3 separate regions of the Homo sapiens genome follow, and all the other regions are reported to be linked to region 1. Evidence: microRNA targets listed by miRTarBase, many of them from high-throughput screens and not tested one by one. Region 1 holds a microRNA gene; each other region holds the end of a gene's coding sequence.

The links. Region 1 holds the annotated microRNA hsa-miR-134-3p (CCUGUGGGCCACCUAGUCACCAA, at 1,652-1,674, shown strand). A microRNA usually pairs through its seed, bases 2 to 8, with sites in the 3' UTR of a target mRNA and lowers its output. Matches are read on the target gene's strand: a 7mer-m8 pairs with bases 2 to 8, a 7mer-A1 pairs with bases 2 to 7 and ends in A, and an 8mer does both.
Region 2: miRTarBase lists FASTK as a target of hsa-miR-134-3p. The part of its 3' UTR that is shown has no 7-base or 8-base seed match.
Region 3: the mRNA of UPP2 is a reported target of hsa-miR-134-3p. Seed matches in the 3' UTR shown: 7mer-A1 at 848-854.

Annotation. Positions count from the first base shown.
Region 1 is chr14:101,053,081-101,056,208 of GRCh38, forward strand. MIR134 (microRNA 134) reads left to right here and starts at 1,607; the gene lies at 1,607-1,679. It overlaps MIR382 (microRNA 382), which reads left to right and starts at 1,226; the gene lies at 1,226-1,301. It overlaps MIR668 (microRNA 668), which reads left to right and starts at 2,178; the gene lies at 2,178-2,243. It overlaps MIR485 (microRNA 485), which reads left to right and starts at 2,339; the gene lies at 2,339-2,411.
Region 2 is chr7:151,073,942-151,076,941 of GRCh38, forward strand. It overlaps FASTK (Fas activated serine/threonine kinase), which reads right to left. Exons shown (of 10, transcript NM_006712.5): 9 at 2,972-3,000; 10 at 2,683-2,891. The coding sequence ends at 2,784. SLC4A2 (solute carrier family 4 member 2) reads left to right here. Exons shown (of 23, transcript NM_003040.4): 17 at 98-352; 18 at 458-547; 19 at 734-900; 20 at 1,314-1,567; 21 at 1,665-1,834; 22 at 2,072-2,245; 23 at 2,346-2,582. The coding sequence ends at 2,426. Among named protein-coding and RNA genes, the nearest start is that of FASTK, 5.4 kb to the right of the region's middle. RefSeq lists enhancers at 1,305-2,282, 2,283-3,000.
Region 3 is chr2:158,134,578-158,137,577 of GRCh38, forward strand. It overlaps UPP2 (uridine phosphorylase 2), which reads left to right. Exons shown (of 7, transcript NM_173355.4): 7 at 171-1,577. The coding sequence ends at 313. Among named protein-coding and RNA genes, the nearest start is that of CCDC148-AS1, 31 kb to the right of the region's middle.

The DNA.
Region 1 (3,128 bases):
TGTGTCCTGCCCATGGCCATAATGGCTATTGAGAGGGTTGGTGACTTTGGCCACCATGATTTTGTTTCGATAAAGTTCTCTCTTTTTAAAAAAATCAGATTCTTTTGTTTATAGCATAACTACATGGTTCATGAGTTGATCAAATAACAAGGAATGACTTGGTCATTCCATAAATAGTGATGGAGTGCACACTGTGTTCTAGGTGATTCTGGACCTTAGCAGAGAGCAGTGAATGAAATCAAGTTCTTGCTCATGTGGACTTTACATTCTGGTGGAAGAGACGGATGAGAACACATGAATTAGGAAGCGTAATTTTGTCCACTGCTAGGTTTTATGGGGAAAGGGAAAGCGGGTTACAGTGACAGAAAGAGGTAAAAGCAGGTGGACCTTTGTGTTAAATACAGGGGTCTGGAAAGCTCTCTCTGAGGATGTGGGTGGGAATGGAGTGGGGTGGACCAGAGGAAGGTCTGGGGTAGGAGCATTTCAGGAGGAGGGCAAGGCCCATGGAAAGCCCCCTGGCATCTTTAAGAAAAAGCAAGAAGGCCAGTGGGATTGAACCGAGCTGCTGGGAGTCGCTGGGTCTGAGCTGGGAGAGGCAGGACTCCAGGTTTTATTCTGAGTGAGATGGGGGATTTGGAAGGGTTGTGAGCAGGGGGGATGCGTGGTCTGTGTTGGAAAGATCACTCTGACCACAAGGGCATTGATAGAGAATCTACCCAGGGCAGTGATGGGGAACCTACCAGGAGCCTGGCGTGCCTGAGCTGGGCAGTTTCTCTAGGGGCACCTGCAGTGGCAAAAGGGGGCCCCCTCTGGACCTCCCTAGTTCAGTGGGCCCTGCGGGAGCCTGGCTGGCACCTTGATGTGCTTGATGGATAACTCAGTGTGCTCTGTTGAGAAGTCCAAGGCCCTGTTCAGAAACCCTGGGGTCTACACACTGCGGAGTGCTCCTGGCGTGTGACAAGTGGCTTCCCTCTTCTTATTTCTAAACCTTGTGCGTGTGGATTCAGGACCACAATTTCAACTCCAGGGAAGGGGGACTGTGCCAGCACCACTCCAAGGGAGGTGAGTGAAGGGTTGCCCAAACTCCAGTGTGTTCCTAGGACACCCGTAAGCTGCCTCACTAATGCTCGGTGTCCACTCTGTCCACAGGATGGTGGTTGGCAGCCACTCCCCTTGGAGAAGTGGAAGGGGACTCCTTGTCTGTCTTGTCTCTGCTTTTCTGTGGTACTTGAAGAGAAGTTGTTCGTGGTGGATTCGCTTTACTTATGACGAATCATTCACGGACAACACTTTTTTCAGTACCAAATGCTACCTCTAAGGACTTCCTGGACACAATGGCAGCTTCAGGAAAGATAGTCTTTGTGTCAACCATGTGGAAAAGCCAAGAATGGATGGCGGGCCATGGACAATGCGCTGACCTAGCTGTAAGTCACCTGGCCCGATAATCCGAGCCTCCCATGCACCTATAGGAGGTCTTCCCATGGGTCTCACCAACTCTGGGGAATCAGCTGTGGTTCTGTCACCAGCGTCACCTCACAAGACTTTGAAGAGAGGCTCCCTGGGCCCCAGGCCGACTTCCAGAAGAGATGTTGGTGTCAGCACCGTCCAGGGTGTGTGACTGGTTGACCAGAGGGGCATGCACTGTGTTCACCCTGTGGGCCACCTAGTCACCAACCCTCAGCATCACTCCCACTCCAGGAAGACTTTCCAGAGCTCCCACCAACTCTGGGGAAGCGGCCATGGACTTGCTGTGACTGCTTGGTGGACTGCGATGACACGTGCTCTTGGGGGTGTATGTTTACTTAAAATGCAATGAGTCAGCCTTGGCAGCCCCTTCACCACTGTGACAGCCTCCTTGAAGTGTTGACTTCCGATGTGGGACGCCATGTTGTCTTCTGTTGAGGGACCTGATGTGGGCCAGCTTTTCTCCTGGGTGTGTGACTGAATCCTTCTTCCCAGAGCATGTGCTGCCTTTGTTAGGTCTGTCACGTCGTCCTCTAATACCCAGCATCCTGTCTCTCCCTAGGAGGCTCCATGGAGATAATGCGGCTTTGGGAAGCGGCCATGATTCTCCTGTCAGGGACCAGTGAGCTACGCAAAAGCTCCCTGTCTTGTCTGGAAGGACGAACTGCATCCTTGCTGCTGGGGAGAAGGCAGTGCCCTCAGCACTCCCTTAAGGTAAGTGCGCCTCGGGTGAGCATGCACTTAATGTGGGTGTATGTCACTCGGCTCGGCCCACTACCCAATACTATCCCACCCATTCCTAACAGGACTCCCGAGAAGGGCGGCCACCTCTGCCAGAGAGGCAATGGATTTCTCACCAGTGTTCATGTGTGGTACTTGGAGAGAGGCTGGCCGTGATGAATTCGATTCATCAAAGCGAGTCATACACGGCTCTCCTCTCTTTTAGTGTCAAATTCTGCCTCGGAGGGCTTCCTGAGCCAGTGCTGCTTCCAAGGTAGGTTTCTGGATGGCTGACCCCATGGCAAGCATTTTCCTGAGGATGCATGTAACTGACCTACTAACTTTAGAGTCCAAGCTGACCCTAAAACAACTTCCTGGGGCACTACCAACTTTAGGAAAATCGAGAGAGGTTGTTGGGATGCCCTAATTTTTTAAAAGTTAAGATTGAAATACACATGGCTGACTTCTTTTTTTATTCCTATCAAATTCAACCTTGGAGTTGAATCTTGGGCATCTAGAAGCATCTTTTATTAGTCAGCCGTCGGGATACAGAAGAAAACAGGAACAGGACTCTGTGCGACCCCTGGTTTACTAACCCACAGCAGCCTTACACCCTCCAGAGAATTCCTGTAAGGGAATCCCAGGTTTACCAAGGAGGCAGTGCTTAGCCTGCTTTTGCACACACATTTGTGTGTGGTTTGCTTCATATTTAATGACTCCTGTGCCACTGACATCCTTGCATTATTAAATGTTGCCTGCATGGCCAGCTGAGCACAAGAAGTGGTATTTCTGTGCACACTAATCCTGGCTTGGTGAACCTGGGGTTGGCCGGAGAGCATGGGTTTGAGCCACCTGGTCCACTCATCCTCAGGGTCCCATCCACCCTCAGAGGCCACTCCCAAGCTGCCCAGGCTGTGCAGAAGATGCAGGAATGCTGCGAGCAG
Region 2 (3,000 bases), not on the chromosome of region 1:
TTTCCCCTGCCCCACCCCTTCCACCCGACACTCACTGAGCCCCAGGAATCTTTTCTGCAGTCCAGCTGATGGAGGCCGTGTGGCCTCCTCTCCCCAGATCTTCCAGGAGCACCCCCTGCATGGCTGCTCAGCCTCCAACAGCTCAGAGGTGGACGGCGGTGAGAACATGACATGGGCCGGGGCAAGACCCACGCTGGGGCCGGGCAACAGGAGCTTGGCTGGGCAGTCTGGGCAGGGGAAGCCCCGGGGCCAGCCCAACACGGCCCTGCTGTCGCTGGTGCTCATGGCCGGCACCTTCTTCATCGCCTTCTTCCTGCGCAAATTCAAGAACAGCCGGTTCTTTCCTGGCCGGGTGCGTGGGCTTAAAGGCCAAGAGGGGGTTAGGGGCAGGAAGGGGGGTGGCAGGAAGTCAGCGGCTGTGGTGGCAGGACTCTGAGCGCTGTGCCTGCCCACTCAGATCCGGCGGGTGATTGGGGACTTTGGGGTGCCCATCGCCATCCTCATCATGGTGCTTGTGGATTACAGTATTGAGGACACCTATACCCAGGTAAGGTGCTGCCCACAGCAGGCAAGTGCTGCTGCCTCTGCCACCCCGGGTCTAGGTGTTCCCCTCCAGCCTCCAAACCCAGCCTGTCCTTAAGCTTAAGCCTGTCCTTAAGATGCCATCCCCTTTCCATGGCATGCCCTCCACATTCACCTTAACCCTTGTCCCTACACTGTGTCTGCCCTGCAGAAGCTGAGCGTTCCCAGTGGATTCTCGGTGACTGCCCCAGAAAAGAGGGGCTGGGTCATCAACCCCCTGGGAGAGAAGAGCCCCTTCCCTGTGTGGATGATGGTTGCCAGCCTGCTGCCCGCCATCCTGGTCTTCATTCTCATCTTCATGGAGACACAGATCACCACGTGAGTGGTCCTAGCCAAAGGGGTGTGAGAGGCCAGAGCCCCAGGCCAGGCTGGGGAACTCAGCATGGAACCTCCAGCCACACTGGGCAATCCCAGGGACCTCAGGGAACCTTGGATGCCCAGATGGCCACAGTTTATTCTGTAGACAGCAGAAAAACCCCGATGTTTGCTGGGACAGGAACAGCACGTGGAGGGGCAGGCCACCCTGGCAGTGCTAGCTGGGAGCTGTCATGGACGATAAGGGCTGGGGGCCCAGGTTTTGCTCTGTAACGGAATTTGAATCCTGACGGAATGGACAGGGACCGCCAGGTTCCAAAGCCAGATGGAGGGACTGGCTGGGCATTCTGGAAAGACCCTGTGGTCTGCGGAGCTGAGTCCAGCCTGGGCCTCAGCAGCACCCCTCCCGCTCTCAGGCTCATCATCTCCAAGAAGGAGCGCATGCTGCAGAAGGGCTCCGGCTTCCACCTGGACCTGCTGCTCATCGTGGCCATGGGCGGCATCTGTGCCCTCTTTGGCCTGCCCTGGTTGGCTGCTGCCACTGTCCGCTCTGTCACTCACGCCAACGCGCTCACTGTCATGAGCAAGGCTGTGGCACCTGGGGACAAGCCCAAGATTCAGGAAGTCAAGGAGCAGCGGGTGACGGGGCTGCTGGTTGCCCTGCTTGTGGGTACGTTGCCTCTTGCCTTTCCCTTCCCAGTGGATTCCCCAGGGCTACTGGGGCCAGGGGACCCCGGGGCCAACTCTTTCTCCTGCGCCTCCCGTAGGCCTCTCCATAGTTATCGGGGATCTGCTCCGGCAGATCCCCCTGGCCGTGCTCTTTGGAATTTTCCTGTACATGGGAGTCACCTCCCTTAACGGGATCCAGTTCTATGAGCGGCTGCATCTGCTGCTCATGCCGCCCAAACACCACCCAGATGTCACTTACGTCAAGAAGGTGAGCCCCCCAGCTCCCCACCGGAAGGGGTGTGCCTCTGGCCATCCTGGTCTACTTGGGTCACTCTCCAGCTGCCCCCTCCCATCTGCCCAGTTCAGCCAGCCCCCACCTCCTCTCTGTACCAACCCAGCTCTGGCACCTAGGAATGTTCTTCCATCCCCGCCTCCGAAGAAGAGAGAGGCTCTTCCCAGCAGCAGGCTAGGGAGGAAGCTGGGCTCACCTGTCTCCGCCCCCCAGGTCCGGACCCTCCGTATGCACCTGTTCACGGCCCTGCAGCTGCTCTGCCTGGCCCTGCTCTGGGCCGTCATGTCCACAGCTGCCTCCCTGGCCTTCCCCTTCATCCTCATCCTCACAGTGCCGCTCCGCATGGTGGTGCTCACCCGTATCTTCACCGACCGAGAGATGAAATGTGTAAGCCCTCCCGTCTGCCTCCCCCGGTTCCTCTTGCCTCCCTGTGGATCTGGAAAGGCCCCCCCACTTCCCTTCTTGACCGCCACCTCCCCACACACAGCTGGATGCTAACGAGGCAGAGCCGGTGTTTGATGAGCGGGAGGGTGTGGACGAGTACAATGAGATGCCCATGCCTGTGTAGCCGCCACCGAGGGACAGCCGAGGGACCGATGGACGAGGGGACAGGCTGGTGGGATGGGGTTCCCCCTCCCATGCCCCTCCCTCCTTTTTATTTAAGTGAATAATTTAAAGTCTTCTCCTCCCCCACTGCCCCTGCAGTAAAGTGCTTTGGCCCCCACCTATCTGTGGCCTTTTGTCTTTGTATGGGGGGCGGGGCATGAATGGAAGAGGCGGGGGACTCAGCTCTGCTCCCCGTCCCAAAACTGAGATTCACAACGGGGAAGGAAAGGAACTTTAATGAGAAATCAAAACACAGGGAACCAAAGTGCAAATCATCCACCCCCCATGGGGGGGCCATCCTGAACCCCACATCAACCCCTCAGCCCCCTTCAGGCCCCCAGCGCAGGCCCAGGGCCTGGAGCTTCTGCCTCAGGTAGCTCTTGAGCTGGGGCAGGCCTCTCTGGGACTCCAGTTCCTCGAAGGGTAGCTGTGGGGAGAGGAGAGGGCGGCAGGTTACCCGCAGGCTGGGAGTGAGGATGCGCCACGGGCCAGGCCAGGGCCACTCACCGGCAGGAGCTGGTAGCCCATCAGGCCTA
Region 3 (3,000 bases), not on the chromosome of region 1:
CCACAAAAATATTGAAGACCAGAAGGTTCAGTAGGTTGCATCTACATTACAACAACAACAACAAAAATACACAAAAGTACATGTGCTAGGGATGCTGGTGTGTTTGGCTAATGCTTCTATAGAAAAGATGAACCCATTCATTCCATCAGTTGTGCTAATTGCTCTTCTAGCTGCTGTGGTCTGTGTGACACTTCTCGACAGACTCGACTGTGATCAGATCAACTTGCCTCATGATGTCCTGGTGGAGTACCAGCAACGGCCTCAGCTCCTAATCTCCAACTTCATCAGACGGCGGCTTGGACTTTGTGACTAGACGTCCTAACTGGGCAGCCCAACCCTCCCCTGCAAGTTTGTAGCTCAAGTTGTAATGTGAAAGTCATATTTTATTTGTGGCATTTTTATATAGTTCTCATCCACATGCTAAATGGAAAGACTTTATGAAATCCTTCTCTCTTAAAAAGGAATTTATTGTAAAAGAATACTCACACTAAATTAAATTCAAATTTCATTTTAGAATAAGTTAACTAAATCAGTCTAATAATTAAAATTTTAAAACTCCTGGATTATGACATTTGGAGTTTCATATGCAGCATTAATTAAGCTCACATCAAAATAGACCAGCCATTTGCACATAGTTACCAGTCACTCTGTTTCTGAAACCAATCCAGAAATTCATGTTAGAACATTGTCAGGCACTTCTAGGTATTGGACAAGTGACAGAAACTGATCATCCATATTCAAAATATTTACAGAAAAAAGTGTCAGTGAAATGTAGGTCTATATGGAAAAGTTACCATTAGGAAAATATGGCCATACTGCTTTTTTACCCCTGCACTATTTCAGTGCACCACAGAATAGGATTCGAGATTTACATATGCCTGTTTGTGATTTTATCTCAGAATATAACAACTCTGGATTACATTTTCCTCTCAACTGAAAACCCTCAGTAATGCAAAGAAAGGCCTTCCTTTTTCTTCAGAATCACAAGTGACTAAATTGCCTTCTAGCCATTTTTTCTTGTAAAAAAAGTGTTTTGAGGAGGCTGTATTTTTTATTCCATTTCAATATTAACCAAATAGGCTGAGAAATTCATAGCAATTGAATTAAGACTTGAGTTCAAGATGTTAAAGGAATCCTTTTGTATGACTTGTCCAGACCGGCCTATTGCCCTACCCGTTTGATTCTCTGGGAGGCATGGTGCTCCTCCTGGCTGCACATGCTCTCTGTGAACTGATCGCATCTTGGGTTCTTCTCAATTTGACATACTTGGGAGTCGGAATGACTGGATGGGGGATGGGTAGAGGATGACTGGCACACTTGTATAGTATGTAATGTTGTGTACATATTATTTATATGGTTGTGGCTCAAATAAAGTTTAATTCCAACACAGTACAGATTATTTGGATCCCAGAGCCATTGTCACACATGACCGAATGGAGGCTTGGGGCAGGAAATAGGTCCTAGGCCGGTTGAGTCTGAATTGGCCTGCTCCTGGGTGGGGAATGTCTTTCTCTTTCAAGCAATGACAATAAACAAGAGGTATTTATCATCACCAATAAACAATCCCCCAAGAGGTACATTGGTTTGTGAACTTCTTTTTGGCACTAGAGACACTTTAAGTGCCATTTTTAGGGTATCTCAATAATTGACCATCAAATTCAAAGATCAGAGCTAAAAGCAAGCTAGAATAGCATTGCCGTCATTTTCTGATGGGATTTTTACTTTGTTTCATATTTTTTTAGACCATGTAGTGAAAACCACCTCAGAGAGGCTTCAGTTTGAACTTTTATCTGCCTGCTCCTGGACAATCTTTTTTTTTTTTTTTTTACACGGAGAAGGAGAGGCTATGAGAGGGAGAAGAATGAAATAATTACAGTTAATCTTCTCTTCAACTCCTGCAAGGAGTGTGTGCGCACAGGTGCATGCATGCATGCATTTATGTCTGTGTCTTCCTCACTGGTATTTTCTATCTCAGTAAACCATATCACTTGCACAAGCCAGAAACCTGGGAAACCCCTGTGATGATTCTTTCTCCTTAATTTCCACAGCCAGTCAATCACTAAGTCTTATTAATTGATCCTCCTAAATATTTCCCCAGTCTGTTCATTTCCTTCCATCTTTTTGGCACCCATCCTAGTCCAGGCCACCATGATCTCTCCTCCAGGTCACTGAGGAAGCCTCACTCCTGATCACCCTGCCTCCATTCTTGAAGTTTGATTGGGTTATTTTCCTGCTTCAAAGCCTTCACATTGGTCTTAGAATGAAGACCAAAGCCCTCTGTGCAGCTTAGGCATTCCTGACTGGGCCCAGCTTGGTAGCCCAGCTCACCTCACCCACTTCTTCCCCTTGTGTCTGCCCTCCAGGCACATCACCCTTGGTCCTTCAGTCTTACCCAAGGCACAAATTCACAAAGGCACAATCCCTTGGGAAGGACTGCCAACAGATCCATCCAATGGGGGTGCTTAGCTGCGGGGACAAGTGGGACTGAGATCCACCCTGTCCAGCTAGCTGTGAGACCTGGACAGGGTGAATCTCAGTCCACCCTGAGCCACAGTGACTGAGAGGGGCCTTTTCCTGATTTATACAATGGTGTTATATGGGATAGTGGGAACTCTTAGTGCCAATGTCCCTTCCCATTTCAGAGCCTTTTGCTGTCTACTCTCCCTGAAGGGCCCTCGCTTAACTCATGCTCATGGTTTAAATCTCAACTCAGAGATCCCTTCCCTTAGAAAGTCTTTCTAATCCTCAAACCAGATTCCTTCCATGCTCACCTGTAGTCCCCCTCCAGAGCCCCCTCGACTACTTCTTCAAAGTATGCAGCTTGCAACTATGTCATGATTGGGGTCATTATTTAATTAATGCCTACTGTCTACACTATAAGGTTCTGGAGAACAAAGACTGCACATATTTTATTTGCTTCTATCGCTTCAAGCACCTAAAACAGTACCAGACACATACTAGGCACTCAATAAATACTTGTCAAGTGAAGAATGAATCCTT